Homo sapiens: one gene and its partners. The protein of the gene in region 5 interacts with the protein of the main gene of each other region in a biochemical or structural test. Each region holds a gene or a part of one and is shown on either strand. Other genes may lie near its edges.

What was found.
Region 1: of the proteins of CAMK2A (region 5) and CREB1, one has a biochemical effect on the other in vitro, tested with the Homo sapiens proteins (one study listed by BioGRID).
Region 2: the proteins of CAMK2A (region 5) and GRM5 form a complex in vitro, tested with the Homo sapiens proteins (one study listed by BioGRID).
Region 3: of the proteins of CAMK2A (region 5) and RCHY1, one has a biochemical effect on the other in vitro, tested with the Homo sapiens proteins (one study listed by BioGRID and IntAct).
Region 4: the proteins of CAMK2A (region 5) and STAT1 form a complex in vitro, tested with the Homo sapiens proteins (one study listed by BioGRID).
Region 6: of the proteins of CAMK2A (region 5) and PPM1F, one has a biochemical effect on the other in vitro, tested with the Homo sapiens proteins (one study listed by BioGRID and IntAct).
Region 7: the proteins of CAMK2A (region 5) and CACNA1B form a complex in vitro, tested with the Homo sapiens proteins (one study listed by BioGRID).

What each region holds. Positions count from the first base shown.
Region 1 is NC_000002.12:207,557,462-207,560,961, reverse strand, and holds part of CREB1 (cyclic AMP-responsive element-binding protein 1), read right to left. Parts: intron 1,841-3,500; exon of another isoform or gene 1,707-1,840; intron 737-1,706; coding exon 590-736; intron 1-589.
Region 2 is NC_000011.10:89,059,483-89,062,982, forward strand, and holds part of GRM5 (metabotropic glutamate receptor 5 isoform a precursor), read right to left. Parts: intron 1-3,500. UniProt on the Homo sapiens protein: G-protein coupled receptor for glutamate. Ligand binding causes a conformation change that triggers signaling via guanine nucleotide-binding proteins (G proteins) and modulates the activity of down-stream effectors.
Region 3 is NC_000004.12:75,507,904-75,511,403, reverse strand, and holds part of RCHY1 (RING finger and CHY zinc finger domain-containing protein 1), read left to right. Parts: intron 1-2,107; coding exon 2,108-2,227; intron 2,228-2,468; coding exon 2,469-2,584; intron 2,585-3,500. UniProt on the Homo sapiens protein: E3 ubiquitin-protein ligase that mediates ubiquitination of target proteins, including p53/TP53, TP73, HDAC1 and CDKN1B. Mediates ubiquitination and degradation of p53/TP53; preferentially acts on tetrameric p53/TP53.
Region 4 is NC_000002.12:190,969,172-190,972,671, forward strand, and holds part of STAT1 (signal transducer and activator of transcription 1-alpha/beta), read right to left. Parts: intron 1,547-3,500; coding exon 1,532-1,546; 3' UTR 1-1,531. UniProt on the Homo sapiens protein: Signal transducer and transcription activator that mediates cellular responses to interferons (IFNs), cytokine KITLG/SCF and other cytokines and other growth factors.
Region 5 is NC_000005.10:150,251,774-150,255,273, forward strand, and holds part of CAMK2A (calcium/calmodulin-dependent protein kinase type II subunit alpha), read right to left. Parts: intron 1,774-3,500; coding exon 1,671-1,773; intron 293-1,670; coding exon 209-292; intron 72-208; coding exon 1-71. UniProt on the Homo sapiens protein: Calcium/calmodulin-dependent protein kinase that functions autonomously after Ca(2+)/calmodulin-binding and autophosphorylation, and is involved in various processes, such as synaptic plasticity, neurotransmitter release and long-term potentiation.
Region 6 is NC_000022.11:21,928,849-21,932,348, forward strand, and holds part of PPM1F (protein phosphatase 1F), read right to left. Parts: intron 2,444-3,500; coding exon 2,300-2,443; intron 1-2,299. UniProt on the Homo sapiens protein: Dephosphorylates and concomitantly deactivates CaM-kinase II activated upon autophosphorylation, and CaM-kinases IV and I activated upon phosphorylation by CaM-kinase kinase. Promotes apoptosis.
Region 7 is NC_000009.12:138,055,782-138,059,281, reverse strand, and holds part of CACNA1B (voltage-dependent N-type calcium channel subunit alpha-1B), read right to left. Parts: intron 1,551-3,500; coding exon 1,413-1,550; intron 1,234-1,412; coding exon 1,032-1,233; intron 714-1,031; coding exon 549-713; intron 204-548; coding exon 93-203; intron 1-92. UniProt on the Homo sapiens protein: Voltage-sensitive calcium channels (VSCC) mediate the entry of calcium ions into excitable cells and are also involved in a variety of calcium-dependent processes, including muscle contraction, hormone or neurotransmitter release, gene expression, cell motility, cell division and cell death.

The DNA of each region.
Region 1 (3,500 bases), on a different chromosome or scaffold from region 5:
TTTATTACCTGTGGATCAAACCCAAAGGAAAGATCTCTCCAAAGAATTAGATAACATGCATAGTATAATTCCTGACCCTTAAGATGTAACCTCTGAATATATTATTTCAAAGTTACACACTGTAACTGAAAACCCTAAGCACAGCTGATTTTACAAATGCTTTATGTAATCTCTAAGGTCAAATAATATCTTAGGTAAGGTTATTAATTTTTGATCAAGGGTATATTTTTCTCCAATTGCAGATTTAGAAAATTAGTTACTATTTTTGCATCTCAATTTTCCTCGACTGAGGTACTTCAGTCCTACAGTTTCTCCCAAACACTTCCACTTTATCTCATGTACTTCATTATTTTCCCCAATCAATTCTTTTTCCTCTGCAGCTTAAGAAATTAGTCATTTTCTTTTATGTTTGTTCTTCTGTATATATGTTCCTATACATAAGGTGACTATACAGATGCAGCATATTCCTATACTGTGAATAAAATAAACTGAACTAGATGTGTCCTTATTTTCATAACTAGTGAAAGGAGAGAGATATGGCTATAAACAAAAGTTATTAAAATAGATGCAGAACTTTTTATACACATACCTGAACTGTTTGGACTTGTGGAGACTGAATAACTGATGGCTGGGCCGCCTGAATGACTCCATGGACTTGAACTGTCTGCCCATTGGGCAGCTGTACTAGAGTTACGGTGGGAGCAGATGATGTTGCATGAGCTGCTGGCATAGATACCTATGGTGTTGAACACAGAAAAGAATTATCATCCCAGACACTCTTTGGCAGTACTCATGTTCAATATGAAATAACTTTTTAGAAGCAAAAACGTGACCTTTTTGCTAGATATGTATTTCACTGATATGAAAGTAATGACTAAATTTAATATTCTTTAAGAAAAAACACTATAAAAAACACCAAAAACTATACCCCTATCCTTTTCAGCTCTTCCCAAGTGACAAAAAATTAAAAACTATTCCCATGTTATACCAAATATGTAATACAGACTCTCTGAACATGAGATATCACTTTATTTGTATGGCACTTTACATTTTCCCACCTGCTTTCATTTCCAATTTCTGATTTTGCTATTTGAAGAAACTGAAGACTGGGTGATAAGGATCTCCATTTTTAAAAACACAAATAACTGCTCAATGAGATTAAGTGTTCACCCAAGGTCAACAGATATACTATCCTTGAAGAAACATAAAATTCTAAAGAATATCATGTTAAATAAGTCACGTTCTAAAATCTAACTGCTCTCAAGCATAAGCAAACCTGACCTACTAAGTCTAGAACTAAGGCAGTTTTAATGAGTCAATACCCAGGTTAAAAGGGTCCTTAAATCATACATGTCTATCAGATGTTATTTATTGCTCCTATGCTTGAACACATTCAAGGATAGGAATTTTATTTGCTAAATCAGGAAACAGTTATTGGGGACCTATGTTCCAGGAATAATGTTAGAACTGAAACTACAAAAGTGAGAAAGATAGGGGTCTCTGACCTCAAATAAATTATTGGGGGTATGTATGCGAAGGAATGGGGAAAAGAGACACAATACAATTCAGTTTAGTAATGAGGTTTGCTAAAAGAAAAATGGACACACTGAGAATTACTCTACCCAACCTAAGAGAAGGGGAGGCTATCAGGGAAGAATGTGAATTTAAAACAAAAGAAAAAAGTTAGACTTGTTATTATTACTTACAGGGAAGAGTCACAGAATTTCAAGCACAGAGTGGAGTAGTGGCAAAAGCAAAGAGAAACAGCACACATGGCAGAGTGGGATAACCAGCAGCTCAGCACCAATGGTGCACATAAGTGTGTTACTGTATGATGTATGAAGTAGGGAGAGAGAAAACAACAGAGGCAGGTGGGGCTAGATGTGCTAGTCACAAAAAGCCTGTATTATGTCACCTCAGAGAAACTGCATTTTATCCTGAGGGTATTGCAGAAGCCACTGAAGGGCTTTTGAACTCCTGAATACCATGGTGATGTTTGCTTTTAGATAGATCACTTTAGGCCGGGCAATGTGGCTCACGCCTGTAATCCCAGCACTTTGGGAGGCCGAGGCGGGTGGATCATCTGAGGTCTAGAGTTCGAGACCAGCCTGGCCAACATGGTGAAACCCCATCTCTACTAAAAATACAAAAAATTAGCCAGGTATGGTGGCAGGTGCCTGTAATCCCAGCTACTTGGGAGGCTGAAGCAGAACTGCTTAAACCCAGGGGGCAGAGGTTGCAGTGAGCCGAGATCGCGCCATTGCACTCCAGCCTGGGCAATAAGAACAAAACTCCATCTCAAAAAAAAAAAAAAAAAATCACTTTAGTGGCAGTGTGAAAGATATATATTTCAGGGGGAAAACTGGTGGTGGGGAGACCAACGAAGAAAGCCCATGAAGTAGTTAAGGAAAGATGATGAAGGCCAAAAAGAGGGCAGTTAGTAGTAGTAGAGATGGGAACGAGGGAAGTGATTTTATGAAAATTTGGAAGCAGTCCAGAAAGGGCTTTATGAATAGTTAAAAGAGGTGAGAGAGGAACTGCAGATGACCCAATGTTTCATGTCTGAAAGAGAATTGGCAGACTGTCCTTAATTGAAAAAGAGAATGCAAGAAGTAAGGATAGGCTTTTGGGTGACTGGGGTTGTAATGGAAGATGATGAAACTACTCTGACATCTGAATTTGTAGAGATGTTTATTTTAGCAGGCAGCGAAATATGTGACTGTGAAGCCTGGGGGGAAGATCCCTATAAAGACAGTGTCTTTGGCATATAGGGTAAAACCAGAAGCTTCCATCTCTGGATAGTAATAAAGTCCTTACTTATTAATCACTTTCTCTCTGGCCACTATAAATCTTGCTTAGTTTTATTTGATTCTCAAAATGTGGTCCATGGAATAGCTTCATTAGAGTCACACAGGATACTCTGTAAAGTCAACTCTAACAGGAACCCAATCATACTTTCCCGTACACTGAAGTTTGAGAACCATAACCTTATTCAGAGTATCTCATCTCAATTCCATATAAATGCTCTTGTAATATTTGAAGCAATTACTATGTTCTCTTTCCTGAGTCTTCTCTAGGGAAAATATACCTAGCTAACTCAATGAATAATCCCTTTTCTACACTAATAATTTTATATAATGGCTCCTCTCATTATAAATTTATAAAATACAGATATAAAAAATAAAATAAAAACCCTTTATATTCCTATCACCCATAGCTAATCACTTTTAATATTTTTGTTGTACATCTTCTAGATGTTAAGGCACATGTACATTCAATTTTTATTTGTATTTATTTACTTTTTGAGATGGAGTCTCGCTCTGTCACCCAGGCTGGAGTGCAGTGGTGCGGTCTCGGGTTCATGACATTCTCCTGCCTCAGCCTCCCGAGTAGCTGGGACTACAGGAGCCCATAACCACACCCAGCTAATTTTTTTGTATTTTTAGTAGAGACGGGCTTCACTGTGTTAGCCAGGATGGTCTCAATCTCCTAACCTCGTG
Region 2 (3,500 bases), on a different chromosome or scaffold from region 5:
GCTGTAGGTCAGTATCATAAAAGTTTGGAAATCAGATGATCCTAGATTTAAATACCGGCTTTGTCACCTTTGTTTGTACTGTGGGACATTGGACAAGTTATTTAATCTATGTTAGTATTATGTTTTATCATTAAAGTCATAAAATAAAGATAAGACACAATCCATAGGGCAGTTGAACATTAAATGTAATAACATAGGAAACGCAGAAAACTCGACATCCAAAGGCCTGGGTAGGATTGATAGTTTGCACTCTGTTCACTATGGGTCAGATACTTTATTTTTTTAATTTATTTTTCTCTTTATGTCTTCTAAAAAAAATGGGATACATGTGCAGAATGTGCAGGTTTGTTACATATGTCTATGTGTGCCATGGTGGTTTTCCTTCTGCACCTATTGCTTTTTTTCTAACTTGTGCAATTTATTCATCATATTCACTCCATGCCATGTACTGCTATAACCCATCCCCCAATTTGAAAATAGTGAAACTAAGGTACATAAATTTAAGTAACTTGCCTAAGGTCACACAAGTAGTAAGCCACAAAGCTGAGATTCAAACCCAGGCAATTTGAAGCCAGAGCCTGTACTTCCAACATACTACAACTCACTGGAAACCACAGTAAAATAATCCCATAATGTTTATTGTTTAGCCACACCACAGAGTAAAGCAGCTCAAAACAAAGGAAACACGGTAAATTTTAGTGCCAAACAAATCAAATCTCTCTCTTTTGCGTATGTATGTATATATATTTCCATTATTTTTGCCTTTTACATATATGGTAAATGGTATATATATATATATATATACACACACACACACACACACATATATATGAATGAAATATATGTTTCCTTATTTTGAAAATGGGGGATGGGTTATGGCAGTACATGTTATTGAATAAGTATAATGAATTAATTGCACAAATAAAAATAAAGTGACCCACAGTGAACACTGCATAAACTATGCACTGTTCTTTGACAGTAGAATAAAAAACGTAGTTTTTATAACTGAAAAGGAAAAACAAATAATGCCTTGTATTGTTGATATGATAATTAAATAAAATAACATACCTACTGCTTAGCATGATGCCTGACGTGCTTAATAAATAGTAGTTATTAGAGCAGGGATGAGTCTGCACCAAGACTTTTGCCTGATGGCCCTTCTGACAAAAGTTATATATAGTTAAAAGATGATTCAGAAAGGTAAAATATAGATTTTCATCTCCTATGAATTTAAAGGAAATGAAAGCAAACCTATGCCTTAATGTTTTTTAGAAACACATTTTAAACAACTAAGATAAAGGAATATCAAGATACTATCTCATTTACAAATAATTGAAAATTCAAAACTAAAAATTGAAGTTTCTTTTCTTGGGTTATATAAATACATCATGCACTAAAAATATTTCTTTTGATGCTCATGTCTTCTTATGTTCTCCTAAGCTTCACTCACTGACTAAAATGACTAGAATTAATATTTCTCTGAATATGAATATAACACATAACACATATTTCTAAAGTGCAGAATCTTCCTGCTTTGTAATAATACATCTTCAATATATCCAACCTCTAAACCAGCCAAATCAGCTTTATCATATAACATATATGTATATCAACATATATAAAAAGTAGTATCTAATATTTTATAAAGTTGGTTTATACATGATCTATCTATCTATATCGAGATACACATAAAAGTACCTCACATGTACGTATACATAATACAATAAGAATGTGTAAGATAAAACATTTGTATATAGCTCTGTCTTCATCCCATGAGGATAGAAAACCTGGGATAAAATTGGTATACAAATAAATACAATATTTTTAATGATCAACCTCATCTCACATTTTCTACTTGTAGTACCACCTACATTTTATTGACACTTAATTTAGTTTCTCTAACCAAAATGATCATTCTGTAAAAGACAATATAGTAAGACTCCTATAAAATATTAAATGGGTTTTGGAAAGAAATAAGAAAAGTAGAATTATTAAAATGCTTTAGTCACAAAAGTGAGCACCTTTGATGAGGTAAGTCATTTTAACATGAAACACAACAATGTTAATAATCAGAGCCAAAATTAAAAATGGTATGTAGTTAATCAAGTATTCCCAAAGTCTGGATAGTTTTTGCTGGTTGGTTATAATAGATATGAGTGAATTTTTCAATTTCCCCCTGGGTGTTTGTCATCATGTCCATAAGGTATACTATAAAGTGATAGTAAAGGCCTGTGTCTACCTATGGAAGAAAAGTGAAAAACTTGGATTATTCAGATACCAACTCCCTCTCCCAAATCATCTCGACACATCCTTTCATAAGTGAACATTGAAGAGTTTGGGCTTTTTGTGAGTGTGTAGCCCGCAGCCAAAACATTCCCGTGTGATAGCACAAACCTCTAGGGGTGCAATTAAAATATCTAGATTGTATATTTTGTCATGTGGAGTGTAAATGACTAGAGAAAGCTTTTTCTCTTAAGAGAAGCTGTTATTTAGGAAGTGCTATGTACATTTTTCTCCTAAGAAACTTGAAAGATCTGTCCAGAGTGCTGACAAGATTTCACAGGGAGAAGGCTGGAAATTTGACGGGACGCACACTACTAACCCAATGAGTTCAGGACGCAGTATTTTCAAGTCCTAAACCAATGGCATGTTTAAATGGAAATAAACATGCATAAAGGACAGAAATAGCCACAATTGATTCTTACATGTGTAATTACATTGAGGTAACTGAGAAATTAAAGGAGGAAACTCCCTGCACTCCATAAAGAAAACAGCATAAAGCACACCTAACAAGAGGTAGCATACCTGAACACTCCACAGCTGACAGTAGAATGTCATGCAACTAAGACTTCCACAGAAAACCCCTGCTTATGTCCCACTGGAGGAAGGGCTGCACGTAGTCCTGGTCAATGCACCTTTGGCTGCTTCAAATGGCCAGTGCCCAGGATTAGAGACACAAATTAGCTCTAGCTTTGTCCTGAGAAACTCTGAACAATAAAATCCCATGTAGCGAATGGAGAAGAAGGTGAAAAGGAGAAGCTGCCTTCTCACTGGTCTGTATCAATTTCTTATTGAAAAAGTAAAGTATTGGAGACCCTATCTTGGTTACTCGATGTTAACAGTCCAGCTAAGGCAGCATCAAGATTGTGTCTAAATAAGCACAAGCGCTTGTTATCCTCTCCTAAATTTCCCTTCCACACAGCAACTCCTCTGAAAGGAAATGAGGGCAGCTGTAAATTCGAGTACCAGGTGAAAGAGCCCTCCAGGTGGACCTGTCACTTCCCTGGAGAGGTCCTAATGCACGTTGGGCTCGGGCCACCGGCTAGCCTCCGCACTCACGGGCCTGCCCTGGGTTTTCTTCCCTAAGTCGCTGTAGCCTGGGCTTCCTCCTTGGCATGCCGCTCATGCCCCCGCCGTGGGATAACTAGCAGGCTTTGTGTTCGAGGGGAAAGATAAATCCATGGAAGAGGAAAGAGCGGGAGGGCTCAGGCTGGTGTTCA
Region 3 (3,500 bases), on a different chromosome or scaffold from region 5:
CACTACAAATGAAAATGACAGTATTTGTTGCCAGTGATAAAATTCAAGCTTTCACACAAAAATTAGAATTTTGGAAAACTTTTACTAGCTTTTGTGAGGTTGGAAGCTTTTTAAAAGACTTTTTTTGGTGAGATTTTCTTCAATACCTAAAGACTTTTAATGAATATGATTTTTTGATATTGCATGTTAAATGTGTGAACATTTAGAAGATGTAAATAACTCACTGAACTGGTATTCTCCAGATGACCAATGCATGAGTAAAACATCCATTTGAAGTGCAAGATAGAGCAATAGATTTTAATGTAACCAAGGAAGAAAAGAGGCATCATATCAATCATATTCCTTGATACGATTTCAGATTTCATGTTGCAACTACCCTTTAAGAGTTGTTGTTCTAGTGTAATATCAGAGAATGATATCCATAATTCTCCAAAAAGGCTATTAAAATACTCCTTTCTTTTCCAGTGTACATATTTGTGTGAGGCCAGAGTTTCTTTTTGTACTTCAGCCACAACTGTTTGAATGCATAAGCAGATAGAAGAATTCAGCTGTTTGGGGGGAAAAATATAGTTATTTTTCATTAAAACATGTTATTTATGTTAACAAGTAATGAGTTTGTTACTTTTAAAAAGAAGTAATATTTTAAAAACCTATTCTTTTTAATTTATGATGTGGTATATGTCAATAGATAAAATCCACATAAACCAAAGCTCTTTGGGATTCTCAGTAATTTTAAAAAGTGTGAAGGGATCCTGAGACCAAACCATTTGAGAACTACTGTTCTGCGGTATAACTATGAGAATAGTGGGTTGGAGGACAAGGTTATTGGAAATGACAAAGTTAAGGAACTGAGAGTTGCAGAAAAAGGAAGCCAGTTAAGTGTTAAAATCTTTAAGGAATGAACTACGTTATGGTAAGTCAAGGCATAGGAAGCCTTCAGAAATGAGTGGATCTGCAAGGTCACAGTGTATTGGAAAGTCACTGGCCTGGAAATCTCTTGATATACTTGTAATGGTAAAGTTGCTGTAATGAAAAAACCCAACAGTGATGTAGATTAAAGAGTAAAGGTTTTATTTCTTTCCATTTAACAATTCCAAGGCGAGTGATGCAGGTTGGTGATGAGGCTTTGCTCCACATGGTCACTCCAGGGATGAGATTTTTCTGTTGTATCATTTTGTCATGTTTTAGGGCATGTGGCCATCTGTCTGATATAGCTGAACAATTGTGCCCAGGAAGGAGAGGATAGATTTTGGTGGACAACTGGCAGTCTTTGCCGTGTTTGAAAACAAGGGCTGTCTCTTACATTTGTTGCATTTTGTGCAATATTAGATATGAGGTTGATGATTAATAAAAGCTAGTAAAATAAGAATATAATCTTTATTATTTTTAATGTAAATGAATTTATCTGGAAATGTCTAAGAAGAGGTTGCCTGTTTGCTGTTTAGGCTCAGAATGAAATTGGGGTGTTATATTAGTCTGTTTTCACACTGCTGATAAAGACATACCCAAGACTGGGAAGAAAAAGAGGTTTAATTGGACTTACAGTTCCACATGGCTAGGGAGGCCTGAGAATCATGGCGGGAGACAAAAGGCACTTCTTACATGGTGGTGGCAATAGAAAATGAGGAAGAAGCAAAAGTGGAAACTCCTGATAAACCCATCAGATCTCATGAGATTTTATTCATTATCACGAGAATGGCACGGGAGAGTCTGGCCCCCATGATTCAGTTACCTCCTTCTAAGTCCCTCCCACAACACGTGGGAATTCTGGGAGATACATTTCAAGTTGAGATTTGGGTGGGAACACAGCCAAAGCATATCAGGTGTTGTGGGATTAGTGTTTCAATCTAGGGATTTCCTTCATAATTCTTTTGTTTTAAAGTTGTGTTCAACTTCATACAGACGTAGTGATGTTGAAGGGAAGAATTAACATAAAATATGCCAAGAAACTAGTGAAATGTTATGTTTAGGATCAGTTTAGCAACTGATCTATTGGTTGTAATCTTTCAGTTCCATCCAGGAGGAGGAGGAAGAAATTTTCTTTTTGTATTGCACACTTAGTTTCTTTTGCTTCTTACTATATCTCTTTTTTCTCCGTGGGTGTTAGGCACCTTGCTGTGACAAGCTTTATACTTGCCGCTTGTGTCATGATAACAATGAAGATCATCAACTAGATCGCTTTAAAGTGAAGGAAGTGCAGTGCATAAACTGTGAAAAAATTCAACATGTAAGATTTTATGACATTTCTATTTTCTTTTTAAAAGCTGTATTAAGGTGGTTTGAAAAAATTTAATCAAAAGTATCATAAATAAGATTTCTTTAACTTCTAGAATAAGCAATATCTTTGGTTTAGGTGTTTCAAAACTTATAAAAATAAACTGCATATAGTTGAACATAAGTTCTAGATATTCAAATGGTAACTCAAAATGTTTAGTTTATTGCAGTTTTTAATTATGTTTCTTTTTTAGGCCCAACAGACTTGTGAAGAATGTAGCACATTGTTTGGAGAATATTATTGCGATATATGCCATTTGTTTGACAAAGATAAGAAGCAGTATCACTGTGAAAACTGTGGAATTTGTAGGTACTGTATGTAAAGTGTTCTTATCTAATTGCTTCTAATGTATATGCAATAATAGTTTTTAAAATCAACTTTATTAAGGTGTAATTTACATCTGATAAGATACATTCATTTTAAGTGTCCAATTAAGTGAGTTTTGATAAATACCGGTATCTCTTTTACTATCAGCACAATCAAGCTATAGAACATATCCATTCTAAAAAGTTTATTCATAATTTGTTAATAATTTAATTTACCCATCAATTATTGTATAACTATTTAGAATTTTACCTTTGGATTATAAAATATGTTTTATATAAAGTGTTTTATGGGCAACTGAGGTAGAGAATTGGGATAAATTTTTCCTTTGTAAAAATTAGTATTTAAAAAATTATCAAGAAATACAGGTGATTTTATAAAAATTGGAAAAAACAGAAAAGTAGAAATAATAAAAATAAAATAACCAGAGCCTAACCACAGACAAGCTACTGTTGACATGTCGGTGTATAAGGAATTATTTTCTTTCTTAAAAATCTCGAGTATTTTAGATGTATATTAAAGCATGTATGTAAAGTGTGTCTAAAGTACAGTACAGTGAATAAGCCACCGAGTTTAGGAAAGGAATGTTACCAATACTGTCAAAGCCCAAGGTGTTCCGTGTTCAGTCCTTTCTTCTTGTCCCTGCTGGAGGTAATCACTGTCTTGAATATTTTAAATCACTTTCTTGCTTTTTTTTTGTTTTTTTTGTTTTTTTAAAATATAGTTTGTTTTTAAGGAAGGATAACCAACCTACCAAAAGATAACAGAAATTATAAGCAAATGATTTTATGAATTTTAACAAATGAACATGCCTTTGTAACCACTACCCAGATCAAGAAACACAACATTCATAGCACCTTCATAGCTTCCTGTGTGCCCCCTCCAAATTAATACACTTCCC
Region 4 (3,500 bases), on a different chromosome or scaffold from region 5:
TTGTCTTCTTTGTTTTTTAGTCATTTCAATTGTAAAATCAACTGAAACTTAGGTTCTCGCCATCTATATAAAAACTGAGAGAGGAGGCCTCAGATTGTATGCAGTGCCACGGAAAGCACTGTGTGCATATTATATTTAATGCAATACAGATACTTTAGCTTTAATTTTAAAACAAAACTCAAGAAATCTTTATCTCCACCAAAGAAGAATACAGCATTTGCATGATAATATAGTTGTGGTAGCAGTAGTGGAAAAACAAGATACAGCCACATAGACAGCAGTATGTAAAAGGGAAGAACCTTGTCAAACCCATCTCTTAATCTACTTTTTGTGTCAGTGATAAGGAAGGAAAAAGGTAAAAATACAGTATACTTCACGAAACATCATCCACTCAAAAAAGTGTCTGGAAAAAGTACAGGAGAGAGAATGGAACCATTCGCAAATGTGAAAAACACATATATCAGCGAAACATATGCAGTTCTCAATGCAGTTACATAGGAAATGAGTTTTGAAATGATCTGATTCTCATATTATCTCTGGTGTATTATTCAAGTTGTCAGTTACTGCTTTTTCTACTCCTTTCCCAATTTTGTGGCTAATAGACTAAATACCACCCTAATAACAAAAAGGACAAAGTAGCCCATTTAAGAAACATGAATTAAATTTCTGAGTTTATCTACATCTATGGTTAATTTCAACTTTTGAATGAGTGGTTGTGAATAGCCTAACTCCCTTGGGAGAACTGTAAAAATAATTGTATGTGACCAAGATGAAAGCAGAATGTATTCAGCTTTGGATATCAAACACAACTTGTGAATTTGGAAATGTACATCCTTCTATTGATATTAGCTAGTGTCATTAAGCCATAACAAACAGTAAAGCTAATATTCTCTTCTCAAGAAACAGAATTTGTCTTTGTCTTTAAATAGCCAATGTGAAAGATGTAATAAAATACACATTTTCCCCCTACCAGATCCATGATGGCTACCTTTGAAAGAGGACTGATATAATTGTATATAAACTTGGCTTTGAACTATTTCACAGGTAAACCAATGGAAAACTGCCAGTTACACTTAAAGCAAAGAAAACATGTAAGAATTCTCCCACAGAAATTTACCGTTCCTACGTCAAGCAGTTCCCTAAATAACCACTGATTTATCCAACAACCTATAACAGTTGGGCACTGACTTTATGCATAACATTTGCTAGATGTTGCTTAACTTCTCCTTTCCCAAAGGACCCTCATTCTCGTCCTGATACTTTGGGTGTATCTGGATGTTTTTCACTTGTGAAACCCACTCTTCAGAGAATGCCTTTCAATTTTACCTTCAGTAAGATGCATGATGCCCTTCAGAGTAACTGATGTTTCTGAGTTAGAGAAAAATTCACTTGCTATCAACAGGTTGCAGCGAATTTGCTGGCCTTTCTTTCATTTCCCTAGAAACACAGGATGTGAAGGAACAGAGTAGCAGGAGGGAATCACAGATGAGAAGGAAAACTGTCGCCAGAGAAGATGAAAAAAATTCATGCTCTATACTGTGTTCATCTGTAAAAAGACAAAATGTGGTTAAGTTTATTACACTGATCTTGTGAAATGCAGACTCATACATTAAACATTGCTTGTCTATTCTAGAATGAAGTAGTAGGAAGATACTTGCAATGGCAAATAAATACCGTGGAATAAGAGGGCCTTCAGCATGTACTATGTATTATCCTGGGCTAATCAAGACCTTTTATATCACCTAAGCTGACGGATTATTACTCTGCTGCCCACTGGCTTAATTTTGTGAATCCATCCAGACTGCATAAAGCTTTTTGCTGTTATGCAAGTCTGGGGACAGAGCAACGTGTCAAATCTGCTCATGTGAAACGGGTGAGGAAATGCTGAGCCATATGCCAGAGGGAGAGAGGAAGGAGAGGGAAATGATACACTTCCCCTAAAGGCCACTCAGTGGGTAAAATCAATGACTGTGTTTCAGGTACAGACTAAAGAAGCAGAATTACTAAGAACCCCTTCACCTTCCCCACCAGTGCCTTCTGCCCAGCTGCCTTGACCAGGACAACTTATAGTAAGTAAACTGTTCATCCAAAGGATACTAGCCTGCCAGTGACTTCCTGTCTGACTTCCACACTGGTCTTTCCCCTTAGACCAGATGCTTTCAATCGAGGATGATTCTGTCCCCTGGCAATGGCTGAAGACATTGCTGATTGTCCCATCTGGCTGTGAGGGTGCATGTGCTTACTGGTATCTATTTGGTAGAAGCCAGAGGTGTTGCTGAACCTCCTACGAAGCACAGGAAAGCTCCCCACCCCACCAATCCCCAACAAATAATTCTGAAGCCCCGAATACCAGTAGCACCAAGACTGAGACACATGGCACTAGACTGGAAAGCCTCTGGAGAACTTTTTTTTAATCCCAAGTGCTCAATAGTGTGTGGTACATAGTGGGCTCTTAGGAAAATTATTTTGGATTGAAAAGCACAGTGAAAGTGTTGCCCCTATGTTTCAGTCTAGCTTATGTTTCTCTTTTCTTTTTCTTTCTTTTTTTTTTTCAAATTGGAGACGGAGTCTTCCTCTGTTGCCCAGACTGGAGTGCAGTGGCACCATCTTGGCTCACTGCAACCTCCACCTTCCAGGTTCAAGCGATCCTCCTGCCTCAGCCCCCCTAGTAGCTGGGATTACAGGCACACACCACCATGGCTGGCTAATTTTTGTATTTTTAGTAGAGATGGGGTTTCACCGTGTTGGCCAGGCTGGTCTCAAACTCCTGATCGCAGGTGATCCACCTGCCCCGGCCTCCCAAAATGTTGAGATTACAGGCGTGAGCCACCGCGCCCGGCCTGGCTGATGTTTCAAATGTGTGCTTAATAGGGTGGACCGTGGGGGTAAAGAGAGGGAGGGAGGGGGAGATAGATAGATAGAGGAAGAGAGGAAGCCCAGATTCAGATCCTGTCACTGCGTGACCAGGGCAAGTGGCTTAACCTCTCTAAATCTCAAAGTCTTCATCTATCAAAAGGGGATTAATAGTACCTAGCAGATAGGCTTGTTAAATTAGATGGCATACGTAAAATGTTTAGTATAGTAGACAGAAAGTAGTAGACAATTAATAGCTAGTCCTATCATTATGAGCTTTGGCTAAAGGCCTCTTGGAGAGTAGACTGGTTCTATTACAGTCCCAGAGGAAAACACTGATTACACAGGAAATCCAGACTAAACAAATGCCCAAGTCATACTGCAGAGAACACTGGTGCTCTGGCTCTCTTGGACAATTTCCTCAGGAGCCTATGGTCCTGTTGCTCCTGAGGCTGCACCAGGCGTTGGCCCCTGGTACCACCCTCTTTCAGAGCTGCAACCTCCAGACTTGGCAGAAGACAGCCAGCTTGGGGAGAGCTGCTTCTGTTTCAGAGTATACACTCTGATTCTAAGAGTAGATGCTGGATGGAAGTCATGGCCAAGGGGCAGGACAGCAAACCATTGTGAAGTCAACCCAATTTAGAGAC
Region 5 (3,500 bases):
CTGGTACAGGCGGTGCTGGTCCTCATCCCAGAACGGGGGGTACCCAACCAGCAGGATGTACAGGATGACCCCTGGAAAGAGGACCAGAGAACCTTCAACCCCCTGTGGGGAGGAGACATGGGGGGAGGGGAGTGATGGGAAAGGAGAGAGGGGGCCCCAGAGGCCGGGGTGCAGCCAGGGGCACAAAAGGGCCTTAGGATGAACTCACCACAAGCCCACAGGTCCACAGGCTTCCCGTACGGGTCCTTCCGCAGCACTTCTGGGGAGAGATATCCAGGAGTCCCTGCAAACCCTGCTCCCAGACACACAGACAGGCAGACACATACACAGAGGTTGTCTCGTAAGTAACCTGGAGCAAGATCCTGCTGGAAGAGGGGATGAGGATTGCTCTGGAGCTGAGGAAAACAGCCCCTGCCCCTCAGGTGCACTTGGGCTTGTATTGTGCAACCCCAGTCGGCCCAAGACATAAGCCTGATGAGCCAGCAAAGCCTCTAGATCAGATCGACAACTACCTAGCACACCTGTCACCACTTCCCACTTCAGAGCCAGTGGTAATCAGCCACAGAACTCCTTCCTACTGGGTCCTGACTCAGGATCATAAGCTTCTCAGCACCACTCTTCCAGGAGCCACTAGTGATCCATTGCTGGTGGCTTCAAGATGAAATGCACCTGCCATGTCAGCCCCAGGCTGAGAGCTAAGCCCACTCTGCACCCCCTTGTTGGAGTTGGTCATGGGATGTCGGGAGGCCTGTCCTAACTGACTTTGCCCCTTGGGTACGTCTCTTTATCTTCTAGTCCTTGTTTCCTCATCTGTCAAATGAAGGATTAGGGATTCCTATCTTAAGTGCCTCCCAGGGTTGTTGAGCCGGTCAGTTCAAATAATGGACACCTGAGGTATTCTAACAAGCACTTTTAAGAACACTTACAAGTTACCGAGTGTGTATGCTAAGCATTGGGCTGAGCACTTCATATGCCTGGTCACATTTAATTCTGACACCACTCCTGAGGGACACACAATTATTATTCCCATTTTACAGATGAGGAACGAAGGCACAGAGAGGTGAAGTGACTTAGCCAAAGTCACATACCTCATAAGTAGCAGAGTCGGGATTTGAACCCAGAACTCTGGTTCTTAACCATGGCTCAATATTGCCCACTAAAAAGTACTCCCAGGTAGCTTAAAGAGACCCAGTTATACCAAAATCACAAAGCAGGCTGGATCATCTGAGTTAAGTCCTGGTCTATCCCTTTTAAACTTTCTTGACCTTCTGCAAGTTTTCTGCCAGTTTTTTCCTCATCTATAAAATCAGGATAATAATCTCAAGCACCTAGACTATTAGGGCAGCTCTGTGGAAACTTCCCTAAGGCCTTCAACCACAGGGAGCCCTTTGGGGAGGAGAGATGGCGGAGGGGAGTGACAGGAAAGGAGAGAGGGGGCCCCAGGGAGCCCTGTGGAAGGCCGTAGGGTCCCATGCCTGAACCCTGGGGACACAGATAGGTGCTGCCCACTGGCTCAGAGGCTGGGTGGGACAGGGCCTCTGCTCTACCAGCCCCGGCTGGCCCAACAGCATCTCCAGCCATACCCACTCAGGCAGGGGGTTCCCAGAGGCTTATGTGTCAACACAAATGGGTGCTGACCCCCAACACTTCTGCCAGCCCACCCCACTTACCAAACCATGCCTGCTGCTCCCCCTCCACCTCTATGGCCAGGCCAAAGTCTGCCAGCTTCACTGCGGCACCCTTGAGCTTGGAGGCCAGCAACAGATTCTCAGGCTTGTCAGGACCAGAGAAGAGGGAGGAAGGGGAGGAAAGCGCCAAGAGACAGTCAGCAGATTCAGAGCCTCACCTCTAGGGGCCTGGGCTCACAGGAAGAACAGCCCGGCCCTCCGGGGCCCCTGCTTTCATCTCCAGCCCCGCCTCAGGCTCCTGAGTCTCAGTCCCCAGAGAGGGGACTATCCTATGGCAAGACCTCCATCCGCTACAACAGAAAGGCCCTTTCTCCATCAGCCACTCCTCCCTCCCCACTTCAAGATCTGGGGCTGGGCTGAGGTGAGAGCGGGGTGGTACATTCACCACCACAATAAAGCAGCAGCAGCAGCAGCAGCATTGATTGTGCCCCTACTATATGTCAGCTGCTGGGTTAAGTGTTCTGCGTGCATCATCTCTTGTATCAACGACCCTTTCGGGTAGGTATTATTACCTACATCTTCCACAGTGGCCTTCCTATGCCCCTTGAAACAGTCCATCTTGTTTCCACCTCAGGGCCTTTGCACTTCCTGTTTTCCTCCTCTAATTTTTTCTCCCCCAAGCTTCAAAGTGGCCCCTTTACTTTGTCCAGCCCTCAGTCTCATGTCACCCCATGGAGGAGGCCATCCAAGTTTACTCTATCTAGAGGGGAAGCCCTCAGGCATCCTGTGTCTTTGCTCCTGTTGTTACCTTCATAGATCTCATCACAATTTGCAGTGTTTTCTCCCATCTGTCTATGTGCTTGTTTATCATCTGTCAGCCCTGGGGAATGTGAGTTCCTTATCTGTCCTGTTCACCACTGTATCACCAGCACCTAGGTTGGGGGGCCACACAGCAGGCACTTAATAAGTATTTGTCACGTATATAAAGATGAGAAAACTGAAGCTCAGAGAGGTTAAGTGACTTGGCCAAGATCACGCAGCTGGTAAGGGATAGAGCCAGAATCGAGGCAAAGTCTGACTCTATCTTAACTGCTCTAGGCTGAAAGATGATGAGGCTTATACATGGGGCCAGCAGCTGACTTGGGAAGGTCCCACACCTGGCCTCTGGGCATCGAGGCTGCTGCTTTGCACTGGCTCAGCCTCCAGAATTCCTCCACTTCCTGCTGGTCCCTTCACCCTGAGACTCAGGATGGAGGGGCGCTAAGACTGTGGGCTCGCTTAGATAGTCCCAGTTTCTGATCCCGATGCTGCCCACCTCTATGCCATGACATATGGGCAAATTATTTCACTTCTCTGAGCTTTAGTTTCCTCTGAGAAAAATGCTTACCTTATGGGGTGGTGCATGGATTAACTGAGATAATCTGTGTAAGCACTTCGCTGTGGCCTACAGTAAGTGCTTGGTAAATGTTAGTACTTCTATTTTTGGCTTGGGGAGGGGCTCAGAGTCTCTGAAGACTGTTGGTTTTGAGTCCTCCTCTGATCCCCTTCCCAGTGGGACTTCTGAAGGGTCCCACCTCTGACCTTTCACTGTCTAAAGCTAGGCTGGACCCAAACAAATATAGCTCCCTCCGCCTGGCTCAAAGGCCTCCTTTGTCCTCTGGGGACAATGTTCCTAACATGTCCTGGGTCTCGGTAACCGTCCTGCCCTGATTTGATGAATGTGTCACTAATTATTATATCCAGAGTGGCCTAAATTTGGGCTGCCTCTCCTCCTTCCTCCTCCAGTGCAGGGGCTGCAGCTATAATGGGAACAGGCCCTCTGGGAGAGGTGCCCTGCAGTCTGGCTGGAGACCCTCTTGGAGTGCACACTCG
Region 6 (3,500 bases), on a different chromosome or scaffold from region 5:
GCCTCATCCTGCCAGGTCCTTGCCCTCCTCCTGCTCCCCCATTAGACTTAGAGGCAGGAAGTGGGTCCTGTGTTATCTCACTGCCTCAACAAAGTATCTTGTGCAGAGTGGGCACTCAGTGTTTGGAGGCTGAACTGAGTGCAGAGGCAGGAGACTGTTCAGACAGCCGCAGAACAAGGCAGAGCACCACGCACTCCCCCCACGTACTCCTGGAAGCTGCTCTGGGCCGCTGCTGGACCCCCGTTGAAGCTCGCCAAGTTGAGGCCAGTTTCTTGCTCTTGTAACCGACATGATGCTTGTTTTTGTGGGAGAACCTTGGCCTGGATCTGTGATTAATTCTCTAGGGTGGAAGGCTGTGATCAGGATCACAGCAGGAGGGGCCAAGCCTACAGAGCATGGCGGCAGGAAAGGGGAGGTGGGGGGCACTGGATCTGAACTCCTTGGCCCATGCGGGCTGCAGCCAAGAACACAGACACCTGTGTGTGCTTCTCTTGTGCAAGCTCTGATCTCTGTGCTCCACATGCACTGGGACACTCAATCCTTACCCCAAACCTCCAGGGACCCCTGTGTGATGGACTTGGAAGCGGTGGAGCCGGGACCAGGCAAGGCCATCTGTCCATGCTCTGCCACGACGCCATACTGCAGGACTCAGGCAGTGTTTGAACAGAGCCCCCACTGGGCTTTAATGGGGTGCTGAATGCTGAGCCTGTAGGTGTGCAGGCAGCAGGTGGGAGTGGGCCCAGCACGAATCCTGACTTGGCCACATTTCATCTGACTGCATATCCTGGGGAGGAGAGCCCACTAGGGAGCAGGTGCCAAATTCCCCCACGGTGGTGGAGGCAGGGGAGTGGCAGAGACTATCTGTGACTTTGGCGGTGTGCTCTGGGCAAGTGACTGAGCCTCAGTTTTCTCCTCTGTACAATGGGGAGAGGACGTACAGGGGGCCCATACCAGACCGTGAGCCGCAGTGAAAGGCCAAGGAATGTAGCTGCCCCTGACTGTTACAATCATCAAGTCCTGGTGTCTCTATGTGCTTTCCAAACCAGAAGCCACAAAAAGACTACTCAACTACAGAAAAACACAAAGCCTCCATGTGGCAAAAGCCCATAAACAAAAATAAAAGATGCATGGAAAAACATTTGCAAATCATCACAGACAAGGAACCAACCTCCTTCACATATACAAGGAACCTATAAACTGATAAGAAAAACAGGCAAAGGAAAAAAACAGTGTTTGCAGGAAAGGCTGTGTAAATGATCTTCAGCTTTTGAAAACACGCTCAAACTCACTCTGTAACAGAAAAGCAAACTTAACAATTGCCCCAAGACAGGCTTCTTACCTGACAGGAAGAATCCTGCAGCCTGGTGAGACTGTGGGGAAATGGACCTTCTTGGGAATGTAGTGCCAGCCCAGGCTGGCATGGCCTGAGGTGGGAAGCTTGGCAAATCTACCCAGACTGTACGTGCATCAGTTCCAACCTAGCCATCCCACTTCTGGGGATGTGTCCTACAGATATAGGTACACTTGACTCTGAGCAATTAATGCTGCACAAAGTAGGTAGAGATGCATTGTTTTTAGCACCGAAAGACTGAAAAGATCTTCATGCTCACCCACAAGGGACTGCATGATGAATGCAATGTCCGCAGCCCCAAGAAAGGATGGGTGCTCCTATGTGCTGACGTAGAATTATCCACCATGTGCATGGTTAATCAAACATAGCTGGTGGAGAACAGCACGTGGGAAAAGTGGGGTTTGAGGGATAAACAGTCATTCCATGATATCTGAATGCTCGCAATCCAACCTCAGGAGACACATGGATGAGACAGTCTTCTGAGAAGAGGTCTGAGTGGGACTGTCATCCTCATGTCCAGGTGATGACCTGAGTGCCAGGGTCCCAGGCAGCCTCTAGTCAGTACAGCCCCAAGCCAGGTTCCCTCCAGCCTCGGGGCAGCATCACCTCCCTGAGGCCTTCCTCACCCACAGCCTGTGGCCTCCTTGTCCGTGTGTATGATGGGCTCTGGTCTGCACTGGGCTGCACTGACTGCACTGGGATGCCTGTCAGTGCAGAGGGCTCTGCTCTCCCCCGGAGCTCTGGGCTCCATATAGCTGTGACCCACAGAGCTCTCAGGAAGGGCTCACGTGGGACCCCCGGCCACTCAAATCAGGCAGGGAGCCCTCCCTCTTGAAAGGTGCCAGGATTACTACTACCTGAAGTTCCCAGGCTGGGTGGGGTTCCCCTATGGGCCCAGCATGATGGAGGCCAGGAATATCCTGGGCCTGGGCGCAGGGATCCCCTTACCTGCCGTTCTGGTCTGTGTGGCTCCATCAGCTTCACCACCTGTCCCTGCTGTACCAAAATGACCTGGGAATCCCCGAGCCAGGCGACGTGCAGGGTCGCTCCTGCAATGAGCGCACACACACCTGTGGTGCCGCTCTGCAGCCGCTGCAGGGAGAGAGGGCCCATGAGAGTTGAGAGGAGGTAGGGAAGGGCAGAGGATGACACGGGGCAGGATGAAGCTTCCGGGGGTGATGAATACTTCCGTTACTGTGGTGAGGAATCCACAGGTGTATATGTGTATAAGCCAAAACTTGCCAAATTGTGGACTTCAAATATGCACCACTTACTACCTGTCAATTGTATCTCAATAAAGATGTTTATTTATTTATTTATTTATTTATTTAGAGACAGAGTCTTGCTCTGTCATTCAGGCTGGGCTGCAGTGGCACAATCTCGGCTCAGTGCAACCTCCGCCTCCCGGGTTCAAGTGATTCTCCTGCCTCAGCCTCCCAAGTAGCTAAGATTACAGGCGTACAGCACCACGCCTGGCTAATTTTTTGTGTTTTTAGTAGAGACGGGGTTTTGCCATGTTTCTTTCCCAGGCTGGTCTTGAACTCCTGAGCTCAGGCAATCTGCCTGCCTTGGCCTCCCAAAGTGCTAGGATTACAGGCGTGAGTCACTGCGCCTGGCTATTTATTTATTTAGAGGCAAAATCTTGCTCTGTCACCCAGGCTGGAGTGCAGTGGCACAGTCTCAGCTCACTGCAACTTCCATCTCCTGGGCTCAAGTGATTCTCATGCCTCAGCCTCCCAAGTAGCTGGGACTATAGGCGCGTGCCACCATACCTGGCTAATTTTTTTTTTTAATTTTTAGTAGAGGCAGGGTTTCACCATGTTGGCCAGGCTGGTCTCAAACTCCTGACCTCAAGTGATCCACCCACCTCAGCCTCCCAAAGTGCTGGGATTACAGGCATGAGCCACCGCGCCTGGCCAATTTTTGTATTTTTAGTAGAGACGAGGTTTCACCATGTTGGCCAGGCTGGTCTCGAATTCCTAACCTGAAGTGATCCGCCGGCCTCTGCCTCCCAAAGTGCCGGGATTACAGGCGTGAGCCACTGTGCCCAGCCTCAATAAAGCAGTTACGCCTGCTTCAGAGAATCCCTTTTCTACTCTGAGGCTGCCTTGAGCTCAGAGGCCTTTGTCACTTCCTGGGGCTGAGGTGA
Region 7 (3,500 bases), on a different chromosome or scaffold from region 5:
AGCTCCAAATTGTGAGCCCCCAAAGGTCGCCCTACAGATGGGGAACCAGAATATAGGTTGTCAAAAGGCAAAGCAGGGACCAAAGCACGTACCAGCACCCCAAAGGCGATGATCTTCAGCACGCATTCCATGGAGAACATGGATGTGAACACGATGTTCAGGCATTTCAGCATCAGCTCGTACTCATAGGGTGCATCATAGAACTGCCCGGGGAATAGGCACTGTTGGCCATGGGTTTGGCAGCCCCAAGACACCCCATCTGGGACCACTATGACCAAGCAAAGCGGGCAGACAGAACTCGATGCCTGCCTAGGCCTGGGACACCCCTTCCTGCTCTCCCCGAGTCCTCCCAGAACCTCCCCACTGTCCCAGCCCACAGACAACAAAGGGAAACAGGATTCCACAGGCATCCCATGCTGGCCAGGATGCAAGGCCACTACTGCTTTGGCTCATGCAGGGAGGAAGAAGGCTGACTCTCCACTCAGCCTCAGGGTTAGATCCCAATCCCTAGCAGCGCCAGCTGCCCCTCTGCGCTGAGCCCCACACACCTTCATCATCAGCACCACAGTGTTGAGGGCTATCATGGCCATGATGAAGTATTCAAAGGGCGGGGAGACCACAAATGTCCACGTCTTATACTGGAACGACTGCCGGTTTTGGGGCATGTACCGTGTCAGGGGTTTGGCGCTGATGGCGAAGTCAATGCAAGCCCTCTGTAAGGGGAGAAAGGAGCACAGAGACTCAGAAGCAGAAAACCTACCCGACGGCATCTACTGCACCCAGCCCTGTCTCGCCAGGCCTCACAGGGAGCCCTGACAACAGAAGACAAATTGAAGCAGCCCAGACCTTCTCCAAGCAGGCCTCAACCAGCCAAATCCGGTCCCTCTGCAGGAGAAAGGAGGACCTGCCCCTGTGTTGGCAGACGGTGGCAGCCAAAGCTGACCCAGCTGTGAGTGATTTGTGTGCAGGAGGGAAGCCTGATGGCGCTGCCCACGCTGTCCACTGCAAGACTCCACAGAGCGTCCACCTACCTCGTTCTTCTCCAGGCTGCATTCAGACATCACCTTGTCCCCCTGCTCCTGGAAGGTGATGATGATCAAAGCCACAAAGATGTTGACGAAGAAGAAGGGAAAGACCACAAAGTAGACCACGTAGAAGATGGACAGCTCCATGCGGTACCCAGGGCTTGGACCCTGCTCCTCATAGGTGGCATCCACGGAGTGTTTCAGCACCCTGGGCAAAGAGGAGAGCAAGTGTCAGGGGAACCCCCAAAGGAGACAGCCCTAAGAACTCAAGACCTGCACCACAAGGGTGGGTCTGCTTCCATGCCTGAGCCCAGGGATAGAGGGAGGAAGGGAGGCCGAGCTCAGGGGCTGCCTGCCCCAGCTACGGAGAGCAGGATGAGCACTCACATGGGCCAGCCTTCTCCCGTGGACACTGTGAACAGCGTCAGCAGAGCCCAGAGCACATTGTCGTAGTGAAAGTCGTATTTCTTCCACTGCCTGGGCTGAGCTTCCACTTCCTCCTTCTCATAATCCAAATACTGACCCCTAGGAATGAGAACATGGGAGGTTAGAGGGCAAAGACAAAAGATCCAAATAAACCCACCTATCAAGAGTGTTGAAACCATTCCGTGGGGAAAGAATGGCCTCTCCAACAGACTGTGCTGGGAAAACTGGATGTCCACATGCAGAAGAATGAATGTGACCCTACTTTACTCCATAGACAAAAATTAACTCATGATGGATTCCAGACCTAAGTGTAAGGAGCTAAAACTATAAAACACTTAGAGGAAAACGGGGGCAAAACTTCGTGACCTCGAATCTGGGAATGGAGCCTTAGATGTGACACCAAAATCATGAGCAACAGAATAAAAAATACAGATAAATCAGGCCGCATCAAATCGGACACTTCTGTGCTCAGAGGACGCCGAGAACGTAAAGAGACAAATCCACAGAATGGGAAAAATACTTATTTCCTAATCCTCTGTCTGATAAGGGAGTTGTATTTAGAATATGTAAATAACTATTCTAATAAATAAAAAAGGCCGGGCGCGGTGGCTCACGCCTGTAATCCCAGCACTTTGGGAGGCCGAGGCGGGCGGATCACGAGGTCAGGAGATGGAGACCATCCTGGCTAACATGGTGAACCCCCGTCTCTACTAAAAATACAAAAATAATTAGCCGGGCGTGGTGGCGGGCGCCTATAGTCCCAGCTACTCGGGAGGCTGAGGCAGGAGAATGGCGTGAACCCGGGAGGTGGAGCCTGCAGTGAGCCGAGATCGCGCCACTGCACTCCAGCCTGGGCAACAGAGCGAGACTCCGTCTCAAAAAAAAAAAAAAAAAAAACCCAAATAAAAAATGGGTAAAGGATCTGAATAGACACTCCTCCAAAGAAGATATACAAATGGCTATTAAGCACATGAAACGCTGCTCAACACCACTCATCATCAGGGAAAGGCAAATAAAAACCACCACGAGACACCACTTCATGCCCATGATGATGGCTGTAGTTTAAAAAATACCAAAACTAAAAAGATGGAAAACCACAAGTGTTGGCAAGGATATGGGGAATTCAGAACCCTCATGCATTGCTGGTGGGAATATACAATGCTTTAGCCACTTTGGAAACAGTCTGGCATTTCCTCAAACAGTTAAACACAGAGTTACCCAATCACTCATTAATTCCACTTTTAGGTACACACCCATGAGAAGCAAAAACAGACCCACACAAAAATGTGGACATAAATGTATACAACAGCATCATTTATAACAGCCACAAGGTAGAAACAACCCAATGTTCATCAGCAAATGAAAGAATAAGGAAAATGTGGCACAGCACAGAACACATATTCAGCCGTAACAAGGAACAAGGCTCTGACACAAGCCACTGCGTGGACAAACCTGAAAACATCACACGAAAGAAGCTACTCACAAAAGACCACATATTGTATCATTCAATTTACAAAAAGTGTCCAGAACAGAGAGGTTTACAGAGATTAAAAACAGATTCATAGTTGGCTAGGGGTGGGACAGGGATGTAGGGGATGATAGTTAAACGGTGCGGGTTTTTCTTTTTTTTTGAGGTGCTGAAAATGTGTTCTAAAATTGACTGTGGCGATGCTTGCATGTACCTGTAAATAGACTAAAAGCCACTTAATTGCACACTGTAAGTGGATTGTTATGAACAAGCAGTATAATGTGTTAGTTACATCTCAATAAAGCTGTTTTTTTGTTTCTGTTTTTGTTTTTTTTTTGAGACAGAGTCTTACACTGTCGCCCGGGCTGGAGTGCAGTGGCACAATCTTGGCTCACTGCAACCTCCGCCTTCCAGGTTCAAGCGATTCGCCTGCCTCAGCCTCCTGAGCAGCTGGGATTACAGGTGCTGGCCACCATACCCAGCTAATTTTTTGTAGTTTTAGTAGAGACAGGGTTTCACTATTTTGACCAGGCTGGTCTCCAACTCCTGACCTCATGATCCACCCACCTCAGCCTCCCAAA